Linked DNA regions of Homo sapiens. The protein of the gene in region 1 interacts with the protein of each later gene in a pairwise test. Each region holds a gene or a part of one and is shown on either strand. Other genes may lie near its edges.

What was found. The genes of interacting proteins can lie anywhere in the genome.
Region 2: the proteins of DYRK2 (region 1) and KXD1 interact in binary tests that used the Homo sapiens proteins (3 or more experiments, as listed by UniProt).
Region 3: the proteins of DYRK2 (region 1) and WDR62 interact in binary tests that used the Homo sapiens proteins (3 or more experiments, as listed by UniProt).

What each region holds. Positions count from the first base shown.
Region 1 is NC_000012.12:67,644,409-67,651,749, forward strand, and holds the start of DYRK2 (dual specificity tyrosine-phosphorylation-regulated kinase 2), read left to right. Parts: upstream 1-4,336; 5' UTR 4,337-4,725; coding exon 4,726-4,774; intron 4,775-5,388; coding exon 5,389-5,537; exon of another isoform or gene 5,538-6,386; intron 6,387-7,341. UniProt on the Homo sapiens protein: Serine/threonine-protein kinase involved in the regulation of the mitotic cell cycle, cell proliferation, apoptosis, organization of the cytoskeleton and neurite outgrowth. Functions in part via its role in ubiquitin-dependent proteasomal protein degradation.
Region 2 is NC_000019.10:18,552,977-18,560,881, forward strand, and holds the start of KXD1 (kxDL motif-containing protein 1), read left to right. Parts: upstream 1-4,893; 5' UTR 4,894-4,938; exon of another isoform or gene 4,939-7,574; intron 7,575-7,905.
Region 3 is NC_000019.10:36,057,890-36,064,908, forward strand, and holds part of WDR62 (WD repeat-containing protein 62), read left to right. Parts: intron 1-890; coding exon 891-982; intron 983-2,078; coding exon 2,079-2,141; intron 2,142-7,019. UniProt on the Homo sapiens protein: Required for cerebral cortical development. Plays a role in neuronal proliferation and migration.

The DNA.
Region 1 (7,341 bases):
CTGCTCCAAAAGCCCCTGCACCTTGTTTTCACATATCCATAGCAGATAAAGTTTAGAATATTTCTTTATTTTTACTTTTTTTGTGGAGACAGGGTCTTGCTATGTTGTCCAGGCTAGTCTCAAACTCCTGGTCCTCCCTCCTCAGCTTCTCAAAGCACTGGGATTATAGGCATGAGCCATCATGCCTGGCCAAGTTTAGGATAATTCTTAACCTGACTTGATCTATCCATAAACCTAACCCTAGGAAGATAGCAGTACCACCCCTCTGCCTGGCACCCCAAGTTTCCTCTATTCTGAATTGCTTCCCCTTCCCCTGGGACACATCATGCTTTCTTACAACTTGACGCTTCTGAACATCCTATTTCTTCCACTTGGAATGTCCTAACCTGTCTCGCCTAACTTGCAAATTCCCACGCGTCTTTAAAACCTCCACTGAAGCACAGCCCCTGCCAGACACCACTTAAGTGGAGCTCGTCCCTCTCTCCTGTGTGCTATCTCTGTGACTCCTATATGCCTTCTTTACCACTCTTTTCACTTCATTAAATGTCTGGTCTCCCGTACGGAACTGTGAACTTCCTAGTAGCAGTGACCAGAGCCAGGGATTATTTAACTGTGTAGCCCCATGTCTTAGTTTGTTAGGGCTACTATAACAAAATACTATAACCTGGGTAACTGTAACAAACAGAAATTTGTTTCTCACAGTTCTGGAGGCTGGAAAGTTCAAGAGCGTGGTGCTGGCAGATTTAGTGTCTGGTGAGGGCCTGTTTCCTTGTTCATAAATGGTGCCTGCTCTCTGTGTCCCCACATGGTGGAAAAGGCTACTAACTCTCTGCAGTCACTTGATCTAACCACCTCCTAATACCATCACATTGTGGGTTAGGATTTCAAAATATAAATTTGGGGCGTACACAAACATTCAGACCATAACATTCCACCAACGGTGCCAAAAATATGTTAGGTTCTTATAGCTTATTGCTTAATTGAATAAAAGAATGAGTTCCTGGACAGGTGTGGTGACTCACGCCTGTAATCCTAGCACTTTGGGAGGCCGAGGCAGGTGGATCACTTGAGGTCAGGAGTTGGAGACCAGCCTGGCCAACGTGGTGAAACCCCGTCTCTACAAAAAATACAAAAATTAGCTAGGCGTGTTGGTGGGCACCTGTAGTCCCAGCTACTCGGGAGGCTAAGGCAGGAGAACCACTTGAACCATGAGGCAGAGGTTGCAGTGAGCTGAGATTGTGCCACTGCACTCCAGCCTGGGCAACACAGTGAAATTCTGTCTCAAAAAAACAAAAACAAAACAAAACAAGAATGAGTTCCTAATAGATTGCCAGACTGAAGTGTAGTCTACTGCATTTGATGATTCATCATGTCTCCTAGGCCTAGCACATACTAAATTCTTTGTAAATGTTTCTGGGATAAGGGGATTAAATGAGTAAATGTGTTTTGAAACCAGCAATTTTTATGTTCATTTCCAATTTTCCTTGTGATCAGTACTTTGCCCAGTGAAAAATCAACTTTCTTCCTCAAGGCTCTATTCTGAGTTCTCCTGTTTCTCTCTACTCCTGCTAGATCCTGCCTACCTCCTTGTTATCTGAATCTGGATTTTAAACATATAGAACACACAGAGTTTTTACAATGGGTGAAAACCAAAGAGCAGTCTCTTGCTAACTGAATGAAGCTTTTAAGGAGGTTCCTATTTAAAATGAAATCTGCTCTGGTGGAGTTATGAAGATTAAACATGGTAATATTTGTGAAAGTGTTTTATAAAGAGATCAAAATATGTGTAATTATATGAGATAATTGATAATGATGCATTATGATAATAAAATTTGAGGGAAATAACTCCCCAAATTTACCCACTTCACTCTCCCCAAAGCCCCAGGAGTGTGTTTGTACAGCTTTTCTATTTAACATTCACTCAGGGAGATGTCAATATTTAATAGAATATTTAACAGAATGAGGAAAATCTAAGCAATGGTTAATAGTCACTTAGAGGTCAGTAAAAATTAATATAATTTTCAAAGATGTACCATTTATAATCAAAATAGCTATGGGGTAGGTCAACTGCAATATTTCCTTATGTTAAGCCACAAAAAATATACAAAATTGAAATTATATTTGTCATGATATAAAACAATATACTACAAAAAGTTCCCTATTGTCTTTTTCTTTCTTAAAGTTAATGATTGTGATCCTTTGTCAAAAAAAAAAAAAAAAAAGAATCAGTGCTCCTTTTCCTCATGTTAAATGAGTAAATTAATATTACTAATTTGGAAATCGTAAACTATGGCTTCCAGTAACTAGCATTTATTTTATTCATGAGAAAACAGTGGCATATTTAGCTTCTACTGAAGTATTGTACGAATAACTTAAGCAAAAAGGGGTGTCATATTATATTAAAATTGATTTTTTTGTTTCATTTTTTTATTTGAACATCAGTTGTATGGAGTACTCATTTTAAAAAGGAAAATGGTATGAAAATAATTGTTTTGAAAGGAGAAAAAAGAGGTGTGAGCTTTCTTGAAAGTGTAAGGAAAGTAGTGTGATGGAAGTCATAGTGAAATCAGACTGGGAGTCAGAAAACCGGTTCTAGTGTCATCTCTGCTACTTAGTAGCCCTTTTCTTTTAGTCGATTCTAAACACTAAATATGCTTCCGCATGTGGATTTAAATGTGATGGTCGCCAGTGACAAGCATAGGGGGATATTTCTTGCTAGGGTCAGTTCAGGTCATGATTCCTCTAAAGGCATATTATTGGATTATTTTACTGTGGGTCTACTTTATTAGGAGAAGGCCCCGAAAGGGTGTTTTGTTTTGTTTTGTTTTGTTTTGTTTTGTTTGGAGGGACGTAATACTAGGGAAAATTCTTTTTGTCACAGGTTCCCTCTCCCAGTGACCCTAACTTGGAGGCCTCTTTAGGAGTCCCAGAGACTCTGAGAGGGTCACACTGTACCTTGAAACAGTTTTTGGCGTTTGTATAAAGCTGCGGATGCGCTCTGTAGGAGGTTGCTATGACAATTTGCAAACAGTAGAGTGGATGAAACTCCGCAGGAGGTGGCTCCCTTCCGACTGGAGTCTGCACTAGTTCGGGCCTGCACAGTAGGTCCAGCCAGGAGCCAGAGATACTCGGGCGGGGCAGAGCATAATGGACCCCTGGCCCCAAGAGAACTTCAGAAACTAGGCACCTCTCGAGAAGGAAGTGCATGGCATAACTCTGCCCCGTCATCCGGGATTTGTCGGGCTTTCCCACCCCACCTCCTCTCACAGTTGAAGTGGCAAAACCTGTGACCTTTGAACAGAGGCGCACTGTGTGCCACGCACGACGAGGCGCGGATGTGAGACGGGAAAGCAATTTTTTTTTGGTCTTCAAGGAAAAGAGAGGTTGTATATGGCGAATAAAAAAGGCAGGGAAATTCTCCACGTGTCTTGGAAGGGAAGGGGGAAAGAGATGTGTCGGGTGGGGTGAGAGGAATTCGAGGTGTCGCTCCCTCACCGCAGAGCTGAAAGGAAGGTGTGTCTCTCCCAGTGGCCGCGCAGGGGAAAGGCTCGGAGTTGTAAGGAAATAGGAGATGTCTCTGATGTTTATTTTTGCCTAGCAACCCACAGCCAACTGCTTCCCCAGCTGCCGTCCACACGCGCCTCTCTGCCTCCCCTTGTCCTAGCGACTGGCGAGCGGTCACTTGGTGTCAGTAAACCGGGGAGGGTGTGTGGTGGAGGTGGGAGGGCAGCCCCCTCTTTCGCCCCTGCTCAGGGTCAACGAGCTCAGCGGCCGCCCCTCCCGGGACTTGCCTCTCCGAGGTGACCCTCGCACAACTAAGTTATCTACATGATGAATTGGGGAGAGGGGAGTGGCTAAGTCGCTGGGACCAAGAATGGGGGGACGGGGAAGCAGTACTGTCTGTGAGCAGCCATTCAGTTCGAAGAGCTGAAAATGCATTTATGTTTAGGGGTGCGCATGGCAGGGGAGGGGTCTCTGCGGCGCTTTCGGCCGGAGGGCAGCAGCGGTAGGTTGAGCTGTAGGGCAGAGAAGGGGCGCCGCGGGGCCGGGGAGGGGAAAAGGTCGCCGGAGTGGAGCCGAGGGAAGCAGTGCAGATGGCCGGAGGGGGCGGAGGAGGGCGAGCGGAGGCCGCCGAGTTTTCCGGGGAGCGGAGGGGCGGCTGCGCGCAAACCGGGGGACTGAGAGGAGCCGGGCGGGAGGTTGGGTGGGGGTGGGGTGTGCGTGGCCGCGGCCGGGGGAGCCGGGGGCGGGGCCTGCGGCGGCGGAGGAGGGCGGCGGAGGGCGGCGGGGGCGGGGCCGCGCGCCGGCGCCTGTGTGTGAGTGCGCGGGGGCGCGCGCGCGCGGGCCCGGGAGAGGCTCCCGAGCCAGGCGGTCTTCGGTCCTCGCAGCGCTTCCAGCTCCCCGCGCCCCTATGTGAGGGAGACGGGGAGGCCCGCGGCGCGCAGGGGAGGGCGAGGCATGTGCACGGGCCGGAGGGTGCTGCAGCCGCCCGAGGAAGAGGAGGACGGCGGCGAGGAGGAGAGCGGGGGGCTCGCGGCGGCGGGCCCCGGCCGAGGGGATGCAGTGGACTGTGTGTGTCTGGCTGTAGCAGACGCGAGGCGGCGACGAGGCGCCGGGGACCCGCGCGAGGGGCGGCCGGGAGGCGGCGGCGGCGGCCGCCAGAAGTAGCAGCAGGACCGGCGGCGGCGACGGCAGCCCTGAAATGCATTTTCCTCTCCAGCGGCCATGTTAACCAGGAAACCTTCGGCCGCCGCTCCCGCCGCCTACCCGACCGGTAAGGAGGCCGTGCCGCCGCGCCGCATCCCCGGACCCCCGCCGGCCCTGGGCAGCCCCTGTGGCGCGGGCGGCCGCTGCCTGCGGGACCTCGAACAAAGTCGGCGGCGCGGCGCGGGGGAGCCCCCGGGCGGACGACGCGCCCCGGGCTCCATGCAGGGTTGTGCGCGGCCCCGAAGGCCCCTCCGCGGGGAGCCCTCGGCCCGAAGAGGCTTCTGCCTGCCGGGGGCCCGGGCGGGGACCGTCCAGGCCTGCCGCCCCGCCCTGCGCTGCCCGGGGCTTGGCGTGGCCGTGGCTCCCTGCTCAGCTGTCCAAACCCACCTCCCGGCTGCTGGCCGTCTGCAACGTGGGCCGCCTAGCCCCGGCGCGGCCCGGCTCCCCCGCCGGGTCGCGAACTCGCGCGCCAGGGCCCCACTTAACTTTGCAGCTGCCCGCGCCCCGCCCGTGGGTGTGCGCTGGGGAGCCGTGACCCGAACGCCCGTTTTTACTGCCCCGGTCTCTTCCTCCGTCTTTCTTTGGAAGAGGGTTGTCGCTGCCCAGCGGGGTTGGAGGGGGGGTCTGGGTGACTTTCTCCCCCCTGACCCTCTTTTGTCTCCTCCCGCACGTGGCTTCCAGGCCGAGGTGGGGACAGCGCCGTTCGTCAGCTTCAGGCTTCCCCGGGGCTCGGTGCAGGGGCCACCCGGAGCGGAGTGGGGACTGGCCCGCCCTCCCCCATCGCCCTGCCGCCTCTCCGGGCCAGCAACGCTGCCGCCGCAGCCCACACGGTGAGACCCAGCCCGCGGGCGGCCCGGGCGGTGGGGGCGGGAGGGGCCCCAGGCCGAAGCACCCGGACTTGGAGGGGTCTGACGCCGGGAGAAGAGGGGTCGAGATACAAGCAGCCCCACGCCTCGGGCCGATGGTCTCTCGTCGACGCCGCCCTGGTTAAGTTGGGCGAGCCCAAAGCTGCAGCCACAAAGGAAGATTCGTGGCGTGGGCCCCTTACTTCCCCTCCAGAGCTCGCCCACCCATGACCTCCTCTTCCTAGGAACTTCCTCCTTGCTGCTTTCCTTCTTTCCTCATTTTTCGTCCTTGCATCCCAGAGTTCCCTTCCCTGACCCGGTAAACATCTCTGTCCTTCCCCCACCTCCCCGTGGGTAGTGGGTATTTATAGAAACAGATACGTGTTAGGGGACAGCCAGACCGGCCTGCCCGGAAAATCGATCCCCCAAAGAGCCTCCCAGGCCTGGCTCCAGCCAGCAGGGAGCATCGCCAATTGTCCCCCGCGTGTGTAAGCATGTTTTATGAGTGCTACAGGTTTGAGCACAGCAGAAATTGTAATCAACATTAACAAAAATAAGGGCCGCCGCAGCAGTCAAAACAAGCCACCCCTGTAGGATTCTGCAGTTGGACATTATTCAAAAGGAAAGGGCAAGCGTTGCTTTGGAGGTGGGAAAGAAAAAGCACCTAACAGGTGCTGTGGTCTCTGGGAGGGGAGAGGCCAGCGTGGGACTGGTTGCTGGTGGCTGCGGAGACTGGCAAGCTGGATTCGACTAAAGCATGTACCTTTTCTCAGCTCCCAGGGATCACCCTTGGATGGTGATGGCCAGCCTGGAGGAGGTCTGCACTTGGAGGAGGTGATGGTTTGGAGGTCTTTTTTTCCCAATTGGATTTTCCACAGGAACAGCCTAAGATGGTTCTGTGTGAGGGAGGCTTGCTAGGGATTGGTTTTATTTGCTAAGTGAAAGTTGAGTTCTTGAAGAAAAGGCCATCTCCGGTCTACAGGGGAGTAGCTCTGGGGACATATGTTATGGGGAAACTTGTTTGTCAGAGAACTGTGAGGGGATGTCTAGACTGTAGTTGCACCTGTTAGACTTGGAGAGATGTGTGCAAGTTTCGTAGGAAAATGTTTTGTTGCTGTTACTATCTTCCCCCTCCCTCTGTCTGTCTCTCTATCCTGACACATCTGGTCCCAGGGGCTGGGAATTCATTGCACAGAGGTTAACTAACCTGTGTTGGACTGTGGATGGTATAGTAGGATGGATGATTCTGTATATTACTGTTAAGTGTTCTTGTCACAGTGATATTTAAGGGACTGCCATTGATTTTAGGGGTTTGGATTTTTTTGTTTGGGATCATCTGACAATTTGGAAAATATAATACCCAGTTTTTTGCTATGTGTTGATGTAATCACATGACATGGTGTGAGCTGGAAAAAGAACTATTTGGTTTGCATGTGGATTCCAATTTTGTAAGGATGGGCTTTGCTTGATCAGAGCCTCTTTGCAATTGAAATACATGTAATGAAAGTAGATGAAACGACAAGTCTCCACTGGAGGGAGAGCCTGTGGTGCACCAGAAAAGGAAGGATGCGAATGTGCTTCTCAGTACTCCTCATAATGGAGGCCTGTATTTTGCTGTGGCATATGCCAGATTTACTTGTTTTTAACGTGTGTGTAAACTTCGGTATGCTGTTAATTATTAGATGCTTGACTTTGAAGGTGTGAATTTGGGTTTCGATGGTGGTTTAGTTTTGATTTTATTTCTATAACATAGCAGATTTCATAGTACAGGAAAGGTTACAAGGACCAC
Region 2 (7,905 bases), on another chromosome or scaffold:
TAAAAATACAAAAAATTAGCCGGGCATGGTGGTGGGCGCCTATAATCCCAGCTACTCAGGAGGCTGAGGCAGGAGAATTGCTTGAACCTGGGAGGCAGGGTTGCAGTGAGCCGAGATGGCGCCATTGCACTCCAGCCCAGGCAACAACAGCGAGACTCTGTCTCAAAAAAAGAAAAGGCATCCTCATCTCCGTATGAATTCATGGTTTGTATTTATTTTTTATTTTTTGAGACAGGGTCTTGCTCTGTTGCCTGACTGGAGTGCAGAGGTGCAATCACGGCTCACTGCAGCCTCCACCTTTGGGACTCGGGTGATCTCACCTCGGCCTCCTGAGTAGCTGGGACTACAGGCATGCGCCACCACGCCCAGCTAATGTTTTTGTTTTTGTTTTTGTTGTTGTTTTGAGACAGAGTCTCACTTTGTCACCCAGGCTGGAGTGCAATGGCGCGATCTCAGCTCACTGCAAACTCCGCCTCCTGGGTTCAAGTGATTCTCCTGCCCAGCCTTGTGTGTAGCTGGGATTGCAGGCACGTACCACCATGCCTGGCTAATTTTTGTATTTTTAGTAGAGACGAGGTTTCACCATGTTGGCCAGGCTGGTCTCAAACCCCTGACCTCATGATCCACCTGCCTCGGCCTCCCAAAGTCCTGGGATTACAGGCTTGAGCCACTGCACCTGGCCACTGAGCCACCGCGCCTGGCCACTTGTTTTGTTTTTTGAGACAGAGTCTCACTCTATCACCCAGCTGGAGTGCAACGGCACGATCTCGGCTCACCGCAACCTCAGCCACCTGGGTTCAAGCGATTCTCTTGCCTCAGCCTTCCAAGTAGTTGGGATAACAGGCATGCGCCACCTCGCCCAGCTAATTTTTGTGTTTTTAGTAGAGACAGGGTTTCGTCATGTTGGCCAGGCTGGTCTCAAACTCCTGACCCCAGGTGATCTGCCCCCCTCAGCCTCCCAAAATGCTAGGATTACAGGAGTGCACCTGGCCATGTTTGTATTTTTTGTAGAGACAGACTTTTGCCATGTTGCCCAGGCTGGTCTCAAACTCCTGAGTTCAACTGATCTGCCCGCCTCGGCCTCCCAAAGTGCTAGGATTACAGGCATGAACCACTGCACCCAGCTTCATGATTTGTATTTATTTGGAGAATGGGTCTCTGTCACCCAGGCTGGAGTGCAGTGGCTTGATCACAGCTCACTGCAGCCTCAAACTCCTGGGTTTAAGTGATCCTCCCACCTCATCCTTCTGAGTAGCTGAGATTACAGGTTTGTGCCACCACGCCTGGCTTATTGTTTAGCTGTGCCTGCTGACGGGTACCTCTAGAAGCAGTGACACCCCAGCAGCAATGAGCACACACAGCACCCAGATCTTAGTTTAATTTTTTTTTTTTGAAGACAGAGTCTCACTCTGTCCCGCAGGCCGGAGTGCAGTGGCGCAATCTCAGCTCATTGCAACCTCTGCCTCCCTGGTTCAAGCCATTCTCCTGCCTCAGCCTCCCTAGTAACTGGGATTACAGGCACACGCTGCCACACCCGGCTAACTTTTTGTGTTTTAGTAGAGACAGGGTTTCACTGTGTTGCCCAGGCTGGTCACGAACTCCTGAGCTCAGGCAATCTGCCTGCCTTGGCTTCCCAAAGTGTTAGGATTACAGGCATGAGCCACCGTGCCCGGCCTTTTTTTTTTTTTTTTTTTTTTGAGATGGAGTCTTGCTCTGTTGCCCAGGCTGGAGTGCAGTGGCGTGTTCTTGGCTCACTGCAACCTCTGTCTCCTGGGTTCAAGCAATTCTCCTGCCTCAGGCTCCCGAGTAGCTAGGACTACAGGTGTGCACCACAATGCCCAGCTAATTGTGTGTGTGTGGTGTGTGTGTGTGTGTGTGTGTGTGTTTTAGTAGGGACGGGGTTTCACCATGCTGGCCAGGCTGGTCTCAAACTCCTTACCTCAGGTAATCTGCCCGCCTCGGCCTCCCAGAATGCCGGGATTACAGGCATGAGCCACAGCACCCGGCTAATTTCTTTCTTTCTTTCCCTTCTTTCCCTCCCTCCCTCCCTTCCTTTCTTTCCTTCTTTCTTTTTTTTTTTTTTTTTTGAGATGGAGTTTCGCTCTTGTTGCCCAGGCTGGAGTGCAGTGGTGTGATCTCGGATCACTGCAACCTCTGTCTCCCAGGTTCAAACGATTCTCCTGCCTCAGCCTCCCAAGTAGCTAGGATTACAGGGATGTGCCACCATGCCTGGCTAATTTTGTATTTTTAGTAAAGACAGGGTTACTCCATGTTGGTCAGGCTGGTCTCGAACTCCCGACCTCAGGTGATCTGCCCACCTCAGCCTCCCAAAGTGCTGGGATTACAGGAGTGAGCCACTACACCCGGCCTCTTTCTTTTTTGTTTTGAGACAGAGTTTCGCTCTTGTTGCCCAGGCTGGAGTGCAGTGGGTGATCTCAGCTCACTGCAACCTCTGCCTCCCAGTTCCAAGTGATTCTCCAGTGTCTCGAGTAACTGGGATTACAGGTGCCCACCACCATGCCTGGCTAATTTTTTTGTGTTTTTAATAGAGATGGGGGGGTTTCATCATGTTGGCCCAGGTGGTCTCGAACTCCTGACTTCCTGATCTGCCCACCTCAGCTTCCCACAGTGCTGGGATTACAGGCGTGAATCACTGAGCCCCGACTGATCTTGGTTTCTAAATCCTACTCTTGAAGCAAAGGAACCAGGTTCCTTGGAGAAATGGCTGATTCCAGGGATTTTACACAGCATTGGATCATGTTGTGGAGCCCAAGATAAATAATGCTCAGAGAATGGTGGCGACATATTAAAAGGACACAGGAGCTTATTTATTATTTATTTATTTATTTATTGAGACGGAGTCTTGCTCTGTCGCCCAGGCTGGAGTGCAGTGGCTCGATCTCTGCTCACTGCAAGCTTCGCCTCCCGGGTTTGCACCATTCTCCTGCCTCAGCCTCCCGAGTAGCTAGGACCACAGGCACCTGCCACCACGCCTGGCTAATTTTTTGTATTTTTAGTAGAGATAGGGTTTCACCATGTTAGCCAGGATGGTCTCAATCTCCTGACCTCATGATCCGCCCGCCTCGGCCTCCCAAAGTGCTGGGATTACAGGCGTGAGCCACTGCACCCAGCCAGGAGCTAATTTAAAGGGGCAGGAAAGGAAATAATTATAATTATAATGATGTGGATTTATTAATCCACATCAGTTTATAGCGATTTTTGTTGTTGTTGTTGTTGTTGCTTTTTGAGACAAAGTCTCATTCTGTCACCCAGGCTGGAGTGCAGTGGCACAATCTCGGCTCACTGCAATCTCCGCCTCCCAGGTTCAAGAGATTCTCATGCCTCATCCTCCTGAGTAGCTATGATTATAGCACCTGCCACCACGCCAGGCTAATTTTTTTTTTTTTTTTTTGGATTTTTAGTAGAGACGGGGTTTCACCATGTTGGCCAGTCTGGTCTCAAACTCCCGACCTCAGGTGATCCACACGCCTGGCATCCCAAAGTGCTGGGGTTACAGGCGTGAGCCACTGCGCCGGGCCTGTTTGTTTTTTGAGACTGGGTCTCACTCTGTTGCCCAGGCTGGAGTGGGGTCTTCGTTCACTGCAACTTCTGCCTCCTGGCCTCAAACGATACTCCTACCTCAGCCTCTTGAGAAACTGGGACCACAGGCTCGGGCCACAGGCCCGTTTTTTTTTTTTTTTCCAATTGTAGCTGTGAGGCATTTTATTACAAAAACTTGGTACTCGTATACACAAACTAACATGAACTTAAAATACATTTTCTTCATTTTTTAGCTTGACCTTCTTTTTTTTTTTTGAGACGTGGTCTTGCTCTATCGCCCAAGCTGGAGTGCAGTGGTGCGATCTTGGCTTACTGCAGCCTCTGCCTCCTGGGTTCAAGCGATTCTCCTGCCTCAGCCTCCTGAGTAGCTGGGATTACAGGCTCCCGCCACCACTCCCGACTAATTTTTTTTATTTTTAGTAGAGACAAGGTTTCACCATGTTGGTCAGGCTGGTCTCGAACTCCTGATCTCGTGATCCGCCCGCCTCGGCCTCCCAAAGTGCTCGGATTACAATGACAGGATGTGAGCCACCGCGCCCAGCCTGTAAACCCTTTTGAAAAAATTCCCCAGCGCATTACTCCAAAACAACGTGGAAGTGTAAATGGAAACCAGGGCTGGGCGCGGTGGCTCATGCCTGTAATCCCAGCACTTTGGGAGGCCGAGGCGGGCAGATCACCTGAGGTCGGGAGATCGGGACCCGCCTGACCAACATGGAGAAACCCTGTCTCTACTAAAAACACAAAACTTGCCGGGCATGGTGGCACATGCCTGTAATTCCAGCTACTCCGGAAGGCTGAGGCAGATGAATCGCTTGAACCTGGGAAGCGGAGGTTGCGGTGAGCCGAGATCACGCCATTGTACTCCAGCCTGGGCAACAAGAGCGAAACTCTGTCTCAAAAAAAAAAAAAAAAAAAAAAAAAGGAAACTTGGACCAAAAAAATCAGCAAAAGTGGAGCAGGGATGTCTGAACACAGATGAGTCTAATTCCCTGCTTGGAAAGCAGGACACCTGAGTGTGGTTTGGCCTCTGACCACTGTAGCATTTACGACCTTGGGGAGGGTTACCACTCTGGGACCTCAGTCACACTATCTACAAAATGGGACACTTCTCTCAGCCTTCCTTCTTCCGGGCCGCTTTCAAGCCTGGGCTTCTGGAAATACGCAGGCGCGAGATGAATTGTTTGATTGGCTATTCATTGTGATGCACCCACGAGCTGAAGCTCCGTCTAAGCCCCGCCCTTTCCTGTCGTGACTTAACGCACGCAAGCGGCTCCAGGGTACGTCCCCGCCACGCGCGCTCGCAGGATCGGTGCGTGGTGACGTTTCGCCGGCGCGGGCGCCATCCCGGAAGCGCGAGCAAGGCCGCCAGATGTGCAGGTGCCGCCGCTACCGACGCCGGGGCCGAGTTTGGGGTGGGGCTGGGGACTCCAGGGCCGCGGGGAACCGGTCCGGGTCGGGCGCGGCCCCCGGGCTGCGGTGGGGTGGGGTGCGCCACTGGCCACATCTGGTCATTCCTGCTGCGCACAGGCCTCAGTTTCCCCGTCTGCTCAATGGATACGCAGGCGGCGCTACGGGCTGGATCTGGATCCGGATCAGGGGCATAGGAATTGGGGCCTCCTGTGTTCTGGGTGTGTCGTGTAACCTGGAGCTGGGCGTTGCCCGGTTTGTGCCTCAGTTTCCCTGTATTGTAGGGGACGGGGCGTGAGGGGATATTTGAGCCCCTCCCCACTTGGGGTTTTTCAGAGCTTGGATGGCTGAGTTAAATTCTGTTAAATAACCTGGATATAGAACCGTGGTGCTTCTCTGCCTCTCCCTGTGAGTTTCGGCAACGGAGCCCGCCCCTGTGAGCCTCAGTTTCACTCGGAGATGATTGTGTCTGCCTCGTAACGGTGATTGAGGATGAAATGAAGTGCTCTACAAGTGTTTGCCCGTAATATATTCTTAGAGGCCCCTGGGATGCTCTCAAAATGTTGATTCCCGGGACTTCTTCACACTCCTCTTGGAGAAACAGCCTGTCCTGAGCTCCAGTCGTTATCACCTTTGGTTTCAGTTGCCACAGACAGCACTGTGAGATCTTCATTCTACCTTATTTTCATTTTATGGTTGAAAAAACTGATTCAGAAGGGTGAAGTGGCTCTCCCATGGTCAAACAGCCTACCTCTCTGCGTTTCTTCAATAAATCTACATTTGGAGTTGGGATCAGAGCTCTTGCTGGGTCAATTTCACTGTGTATGTGGGCCAGACTAGCAGTAATCAGGGAAGGCTTCTTGGGAGAGGAAGTTGCGGGGGGACGGGAGGGAGGTGCCAGGAACCCCTCAGCCCTCACATCTGGGAGCCAGAGACAGAAAAGAGTCCTGTTTTGAAGGAGGAGTGTATCCCAGAAGGTCCCAGTACTGTGTCTCACTGGTACTAGCTATGGGCCTCCCTCTCCAGGTGTCTTTTTTTTTTTTTTTTTTTTTTTTTCAGTTGAGATGAAGTCTCCCTCTGTAGCCCACACTAGAATGCAGTGGCTTGATTTTGGCTCATTGCAACCTCTGCCTCCCGGGTTCAAGCGATTCTCCTGCCTCAGCCTCCTGAGTAGCTGGGACTACAGGTGCCCGCCATCATGCCTGGCTAATTTTTGTATTTTTAGTAGAGACGGGGGTTTCACCATGTTCACCAGGCTAGTCTTGAACTCATGACCTCAGGTGATCCACCAGCCTTGGCTTCCCAAAGTGCTGAGATTACAGGCATGAGCACCCGGTCCAGGTATCCTCTTTATACAAGATCATGCTTCTTTGGGAATGTGGAGACTGGGTGTCTCTGCATGGCATGTCATAGGAGTTCAATAACCATAGTTATTATTAGAGGGAAGGGGGTTTTGCTGGGTGTGGCACCTTATTTCTAGAAGGTGCTGCAAACCACTGACCAGATACAGATCACAAATAGATGCTCTTGGCCTCCATGATATCTTGGAAAAAAGTATTGATTGCTGACATTTGTCAATGAGGCAATTTCCCAGAAAAAAAAAATCCCTGTTTCCTTTTTCCTGGAGAAACATCAGAAGTCAGGCAGAAATCAGCTGCTGTAAGAAGCCACTGTCCTGTCACAGCTGGATATTGTGCACCTGTTCAGATTCACACCTTTGTGAGACCCGTGGGCTGTGGCCGTTTGTTGTGACTTAGGTTCACTGGCTGTGTGACAGTGGCCCAGTTTCTCAGTGTCCCTGAGCCTCAGTTTTCTCATCTATAAATAAGAATGATAACAGTATGTATGAGCTTGATGCTTTGTTTAGCATAGAGTAGCTGCTGAATAAATGGGAGAGTACATTAAGTGAGCTCTGAAACCCTTTCTTTCTCTTTCCTTTCTTTCTCTCTTTCTCTGTCTCTCTCTCTTTCTCTCCTCTCTCTTTCTCTCTTTGTCTCTCTCTCTTTCTCTCCTTCTCTCTCTCTTTCTCTCTCTCCCTTCCTTCCTTCCCTCCCTCCCTCCCTTCCTTCCTTCTTTTCGAGATGGAGTCTCACTCTGTCGCCCGGGCTGGAGTGTAGTGGCATGATCTCGGCTCATTGCAACCTCTGCCTCCCAGGTTCAAGCCATTCTCCTGCCTCAGCCATCCAAGTAGCTGCGACTACAGGTGCCCGCCACCATGCCCGGCTAATTTTTTTTGTATTTTTAGTAGAGACTGAGTTTCACTATGTTGGCCAGGCTGGTTTTGAACTCCTGACCTCAAGCAGTCTGCCCACCTCGGCCTCCCAAAGTGCTAGGATTACAGACGTGAGCCACCACACCCGGCCTCTGAAACCCTTTCTGATCCAGTAGAAGTTCGTCTCTGTTTCTTGGCTATTAAATGTGTGGGCCTCAGAGCCAAACTATATCAAGATCCTAGATTTTTCCTGAACTCCCTAGGAGGGTCAGTGCTGTAGCCCCTCCTACCCTGGCTGCTCCGGGAAGTCCCTGCCTGCCATTACGGTCATCTGTGTGCCAGCAAAACTGGGAACCTCAGAACCATCTGGATTGCTGGGGCCCACAGGTTGGCTGTGAGTACCTGCAATTCTTGGCTTTAATTTGCTAATAAAAGTGTCACGTCAGAGCTGAGTTTGAAAAGTTCTGTTGCCCTTCCCCACAACAACATTCTGGCAGCCCCTTGCTATGAGCCAGACTCCGGGTCGGGTTCTGGTGACAGACACACCTCTACTCCTTCTTTTTTTTTTTTGAGACGGAGTCTCTCTGTTGCCCAGGCTGGAGTGCAGTGGCACAGTCTTGGCTCACCACAACCTCCGCCTCCTGGGTTCAAGTGATTCTCCTGCCTCAAGCTCCCGAGTAGCTGGGACTAAAGGTGCCCACCACCATGCCTGGCTAATTTTTGTA
Region 3 (7,019 bases), on another chromosome or scaffold:
TACAGCCCAAAGTGCTAGCTTTGGAGCCAGACTGCCTGGGTTTGTATATCAACATTGCCACTTGCAGATGTAGGATCTTGGGCCTCAGACTTCTTACCTGTAAAACAGGGGTGATAATAGAGCCTTCTTCGTGGCTTGTTGGGAGGATTCAAGTCTTTTATACATATAAAAGTACTAAGAGGCCGGGCACAGTGGCTCATGCCTGTAATCCTAGCACTTTGGGAGGCCGAGGCGGGTGTATCACCTGAGGTCAGGAGTTCGAGGCCAGCCTGGCCAACATGGTGAAACCCCATCTCTACTAAAAATACAAAAATTAGCCGGACATGGTGGCATGTGCCTGTAATCCTAGCTACTCAGGAGGCTGAGGCAGGAGAATTGCTTGAACCTGGAAGGCGGAGGTTGCAATGAGCCAAGATCTCACCACTGACTCCAGCCTGGGTGACAGAGCAAGACTCCATCTCAAAAACAAACAAAAAAAAGTACTTAGAAACTTATTCACAGGTCACCTTCTCACCGCGGCATTCGCCCCCTTCCCCTGTGCTCCTAACCTCCTTATCTGCTTTCTTCTCTCTTGCACCCATCATTACTTGGCATCTATTTCACATATTTGTTCTGCTCCTTTTCTATGTTCTACATACCCATCACCAGTAGAATGTGAGCCCCCCGAGGGCAGGGATTTGTCTCTTCCTCACCACTCTGTGCTTTTCACCTAGCGTTGTATTTGTCAAAGGAATGTTGAGAGAACAAGTGTTAGCTGCTGGTGGATGGCGTGGCCACAGAAGCTCAGTGTGGGTGTTGAATGTAGCAGGACCTGAATGGGTGGCCAAGGCGGCTGCACCATGTGGTGCTGGCTAGGGTGGGTGCCTCTGACTTGGGCTTTTTCTTTGCAGGTGTCACTCGAGAAGGTGCTTGGCATCACAGCCCAGAACAGCAGTGGCCTAACCTGTGACCCCGGCACAGGCCATGTGGCCTACCTGGCAGGGTAAGCAGATAAGGGCCTCGACGTCTAATCATTGCTAGGGAATTTGGAGCTTGGAACCTGAAGCCATCCGTAAATCGCTCTGAGCCTCATATTTTTCACCTGTAGAATGTGGAGAATGGGGCCTGCCTCTGAGAGCTGTGGAGAGGATTCCATAGCCCCCTCTCTGTCTAGAACAGTTCCTGGCATGTAGTGAGTGCAATGAAAGCCTTTATTATGACTACAGGGGGGAGGTGACAGCGATTCTGGGAAAGACAGGTGATTAAAGTCCACGCTGTGGTGTCAGGTAACCTGGATTTGTGTCCCAGCTCTGCCATGTATGCTGCTCTCTGAGCCTCTTCCTCTGCCTCTGTAAAACAGAGCTGGTGACCCCCTCTGCTTGCATAGTTGAGAAGACTGAAGAAGATGCTACAGCTGTTCATTCCATAAATACTCATGTAGCCTGGCACTGTGCTAAGGACGTCCCCTCTCTGGGTTTGTTTCCTTATCTATAAATGGGCCTAAATAGTCGTGACCTGACCTGGCAGTTGTGAGGATTTAAAACAATTACATCCCTCTTTCTCTCTTTTTGTTTTGTTTTGCTTTTTTGAGACAGAGTCTGGCTGTGTTGCCCAGGCTAGAATGCAATAGTGTGAATAACAGCTCACTACAGCCCCAACCTCCTGTGCTCAAGCGATCCTCCCATCTTCACCTCCCATGTAGCTGGGACTACAGGCACATGCCACCACAGCCAGCTAATTTTTTTTAGTGGAGATGAGATCTCACTCTGTCGCCCAGGCTGGTCTAAAACTCCTGAGCTCAAGTGATCCCTCCTGCCCCATACTCCCAAAGTGCTGGGATTATAGCCAGCTTAAGGTCTTAATTAGCCTAGGGCCTGACAGACATTACCTCAGAGGAAGTGTTGGTTTCTATTTAAGAACATAGCAATGTTAAAGTGCCCTAGAATTCTCAGCGTAAACACCTGGAGGAGGGGGAGGAGGAGGAGACCAGAGAGAACCGAGGGAGCTTGTTTATTTGTGGGCTTTTCTGGTGGGAATAGAATCATCCCAGGACCCCAACACTCCCCACAGTTGAGGCACATTTTCCTCTTTCTTCCCAGCTGTGTGGTGGTGATTTTGGACCCCAAGGAGAACAAGCAGCAGCACATCTTTAACACCGCCAGGTAGGCTGAGGCCTGGGCCCGGGGCAGGGGTGGAACCAGGGGCTTGGCACGCCTCCCCTCCCCTACACAGCCTGGAGATACTCATGGGTAGGTGCTCACTCATTCACTTACATGTTGGCTCAGCAGCATTCGCCTGTGCTGGGTGCTGTTCCGTGTGCTGGGGACACAGCAGTGACCAGAGGAGACGAGAATCTCTGCTGGCTAGAGCGAGACAGACTGTAAACTAGTCAGCAAATTACGGGCTGATCATGATCAGTGCTATGGAGGAAATGATGGAGGATGTCTTCGGGCAGGTTTGTGGGCAGAGAATAGGAGGAAAGCCTTATCAGAAGGCTCAGGGAACGCTGCCTTGACTCTGAGACCTGAAGGAAGCGAGAGGGTGACCCATAAGAAGCTGTAGGGAGAGCGCTTCAGGCAGGGGGCACAGGAAGGGCAAAGGCCCTGCAGTGGTTAAGAATCTCCGGCGCTTTAGAAGCAGCCAGGGATCTGGGTGCCTGGAGAAAGGAGCAGGGAAGATGAGGCTGGACCAGGCAGAAGCCACATCCCGTAGGCCTTGCAGCCTTGTAGAGGGTCTGCATAGCATGCTGAGTGCAGAGAGCAGCCACAGGAGGGCACCACAGGCCAGGAATGTGCTTTTCACCCCCAGCCCTCCAGCAGCTCTATTCCCTGCTTTGCTTTTCTCCACAAAATTTGCTCCCATCTCTGATATGCTGTCCAGTTTCCTCATTGATGGTATTCACTGTGGGTCTCCCTCAGTGTGAGCACTCTTGAGAGCAGGGACTTTCTCTGAGTTCATTTCTGTGTCCCTAGCACCAAAGAGCAGTATCTGGCATATTGATGGCTATTTTCTAAGAGAAAGACTTAACATGATTTGGGTTTTAGAAAGATCCCTTCAGCTATAAGTTTACTGGGGAAGGACCCGCTCCTCTGCCTTGGGGCTAACTGATCACTGCTACCCTGGGGATGTGGTCCCAATAGGGCTGTGACCTTTGGAAGGCACACCATGTCCCTCCTTGGCATAGCTCAGGCTCAGCTCCTTTGGCCCAGTTCTCCAGGTGGATGGATAAGGAGTGGGTTTTCTCCTGCCCTTATGGTCCCTAAGGTACGGTCCTTAAGCTACGGCAGGTTCTTGTTATCTGACAGAAGTGCATTCCCTCTTGAAAGTGGCTTTTTGGACCTTTTGCTCCTAACTGTGGGTTCTGTTACTGGTGATAAGGGCAGAGCTGGGTTCCATTCCTGGCTCAAGCGTCTATTCACTGTGGAATCTCAGGTGAGACACTTCTTTCAGAGCCTTGGTCTCCTCTGAAAATAAAATAGCTGCCTCCAACTGGGAGAGCATTCATAAGGCAGCAGCTACAAACCAGAGTCACACACACTTGCCCAATATAGTATGTTTTAAAGGTTGGATAAGTGGACAACATTTCAAGTTTTTTAACACAAAAATCCAAATGTCCCTTTTGTTTGGAGAAGTGAGAAATTCTCTGGCCTCTGGGGCCCAAATTCCCCTGTGGCAGTGAGGGGCTGAGCTTAGTGAAATTTGTCAGGCCCGTTGTGGCCAGTTCCTCACACCTGTGTTGCCTCCCTAATCCCTGTAGGCAGTGGAGTGGGTGGCCTGGATCTATAGTAGATGGTATGCAGGTGTCCGCCCTTGGCCACCAGTGGGTGTGCATTAGGAGGTGGTGTGGCCAGTGTGGGGATTTTCACTCCAACTGCATATCAGAATCACCTGGTCCCTGTGCCTCACCGCCCCCCCACCGCCACGCAAGAGAAAGCCAAATCAGTTGATCTGGGATGAAACTTGGGCATTGGCAATTTTGAGACTTTTTATATTGAAATAATTTCAGACTTAGAATAGTACAAAGAGCTCCTATATACCTATGTACCTTTCACATATTTCACAAATGTTAGCTTTTTTTTCTTTTTTTTTTTTGGACACAGAGTCTTGCTCTGTCACCCAGGCTGCTGGAGTGCAGTGGCACAGTCTCAGCTCACTGCAACTTCCACCTCCCGGGTTCAGGTGATTCTCATGCCTCAGCCCCCCAGGTGGCTGGGACCACAGGCATGTGCCACCATGCCCAGCTAGTTTTTTGTGTTTTAGTGGAGACGGGGTTCATCATGTTGCCCAAGGTGGTCTTGAACTCCTGAGCTTAGACAGTCTGCCTGCCTCAGCCTCCCAAAGTGCTAGGATTACAGGTGCGAGCCACTGCACTTGGCCAAATGTTAGCATTTTACCACATTTGCTTTATCATTTTTTGTCTATATACATATTAATTTGTTCTGAACTATTTGAGAATCAGTTGTAGACATGATGCCCCTATATCTCTAAATACTTCACGCCAGGCATGGTGATTCACGCCTGTAATCTCAGCACTGTGGGAGGCCTTGGAGGCAGGAAGATCATTTGAGGTCAGGAGTTTGAGACCAGCCTGGGGAACATGGCAAAACCCTGTCTCTACTAAAAATACAAAAATTAGCCAGGCCTGGTGGCAGGCGCCTGTAATCCCAGCTACTCGGGAGGCTGAGGCAGGAGAATCGCTTGAACCCGGGAGGCAGAGGTTGCAGTGAGCCAAGATCATGCCACTGCACTCCAGCCTGGGTGACAGAGCAAGAGTCCGTCTCAAAAAAAAAAAAAAAAAAAAAAAAAACTTAATCAAATAAATACTTCAGTGTGTATTTCCTACAAAAAAAAATGACAATCTTTTTAAACTGTAATACATCCAGCAAAATCAGGAAATGAAAATTGATATATCACTCTCATCCACTCCCCAGAGGGCACCATTCAGGAGTCAGCCTTTGTCCCATGAATGTCCTTTATGGCCAAAGGATTCTGTCTAGAATCACACATTGCATTGAGTTGTCCCCTCAGTCTCTTTCAGGCTGACGTGGCTCCTCTGTCTTTTCTTGACTTTCAGGATCTTGACATTTTTTTTTTTCTTTTTGAGATGGAGTCTCTGTCGTCAGGCTGGAGTGCAGTGGTGGGATCCTGGCTCACTGCAACCTGACTCCCCAGTTCAAGTGATTCTCCTGCCTCAGCCTCCCGAGTAGCTAGGATTACAGGCATATGCCACCATGTCCGGCTAATTTTTGTATTTTTAGTAGAGCTGGGGTTTCCCCATGTTGGCCAGGATGGTCTCGATCTCCTGACCTTGTGATCCGCCCGCCTTGGCCTCCCAAAGTGCTGGGATTACAGGCGTGAGCCACAGCACCTGGCCACTTTTTTTTGTTTTTTTGTTTTTTGAGACGAAGTCTCACACTGTCGCCCGGGCTGGAGTGCAGTGGGGCGATCTTGGCTCGCTGCAGCCTCCACCTCCTGGGTTCAAGCGATTCTCTGCCTCAGCCTCCTGAGTAGCTGGGACTACAGGCATGCGCCACCGTGCCTGGCTAATTTTTGTATTTTTTTTTAGTAGAGACGGGGTTTCACTATGTTGGTCAGGCTGGTCACGAACTCCTGACCTCGTGATCCACCCGCCTCGGCCTCCCAAAGTGCTGGGATTACAGGCTTGAGCCACTGCACCCGGCCAATCTTGACACTGAGGATTGTAGACGAGGTATTTTGTAGAGTGTCCCAGCATTTGGGTTTGTCCAATGCCTCCTCACGGGCAGACTCAGGTTCTGCATCTTTGGCAGGAACAGACCAGAAGGGGTGCTGTGTTCTTCCTGGTGCCTCCTCTCAGGAGGTCTCCTATGACTGGTGGTGTTCACTGGGAGCACTTGGCCAAGGTGTTGCCTGCCAGATTCCTCCACTTCAAAGCCTCTCTTTTCACCTTTGTGATTAGCAGGTATCCTGGGGACATCTTTCCTGAGACAGTGCAAATATTATCTTGTTCCTCACCAAACTTTCACTCAACTAATCTTAGGCTTTGACACTTTTCAGATGCTCCCCAGGGAAATCTAATGTACAGCCAGGACTGAGAACTACTGGCTTAGAGGTCAGGGCTCTGCCCTGTCTGGTTAGGTAACTGCAGGCAGGGGACTTCCTTGTGTTGCAGTCACCTCATCTGCCAAGTTGGTTCATGAGAGCCCTGACTCCATGAAGCATGCTTGAGGAATCAGTGCACTGATGGCCAGACAGCATTTGCCAGAGGGCCAGGCACAAGGTCAGGGCATGCGACAGGTTAGAGGTGGCTACGGGCAACAGAAACCCCTCCACAGCATGGCTTAAAACCCAAGAGCATGCTCTTCCTGCATGTCATAAGTCCAGAGGTGGGCAGCCCAGGGGCTGTGTCTCTGAACGCCACATTTTTTTTTTCTGTCTCTCTTTTTGAGACAGAGTCTCACTCTGTTGCCCAGGCTGGAGTGCAGTGGCGCGATCTTGGCTCACTGCAAGCTCCGCCTCCTGGGTTCACACCATTCTCCTGCCTCAGCCTCCCAAGTAGCTGGGACTACAGGCGCCCACCACCACGCCTGGCTAATTTTGTTTTTGTATTTTTAGTATAGACAGGGTTTCACCGTGTTAGCCAGGGTGGTCTCGATCTCCTGACCTTGTGATCTGCCCACCTCAGCCTCCCAAAGTGCTGGGATTACAGGCGTGAGCCACCGCGCCCAGCCCCACTTCTTTTTTTCTCTAGACGGAGTCTTGGTCTGTTGCCCAGGCTGGAGTGCAGCAGCACGATCTTGGCTTGCTGCAACCTCTGCCTCCCGGGTTCAAGCAATTCTCCTGCCTCAGCCTCCCGAGTAGCCGGGATTACAGGCTCCTGCCACCACACCTGGCTATTTTTTGTATTTTTAGTAGAGGTGGGGTTTTGTCGTGTTGGCCAGGCTGTTCGCGAATTCCTGACCTCAAGTGAACCACCCACCCCTCTGCCTCCCAAAGTGCTGGGATTACAGGCGTGAGGCACCGCACCCGGCCCCCATTCCTTCTCTCCTGTTCCACCCCAT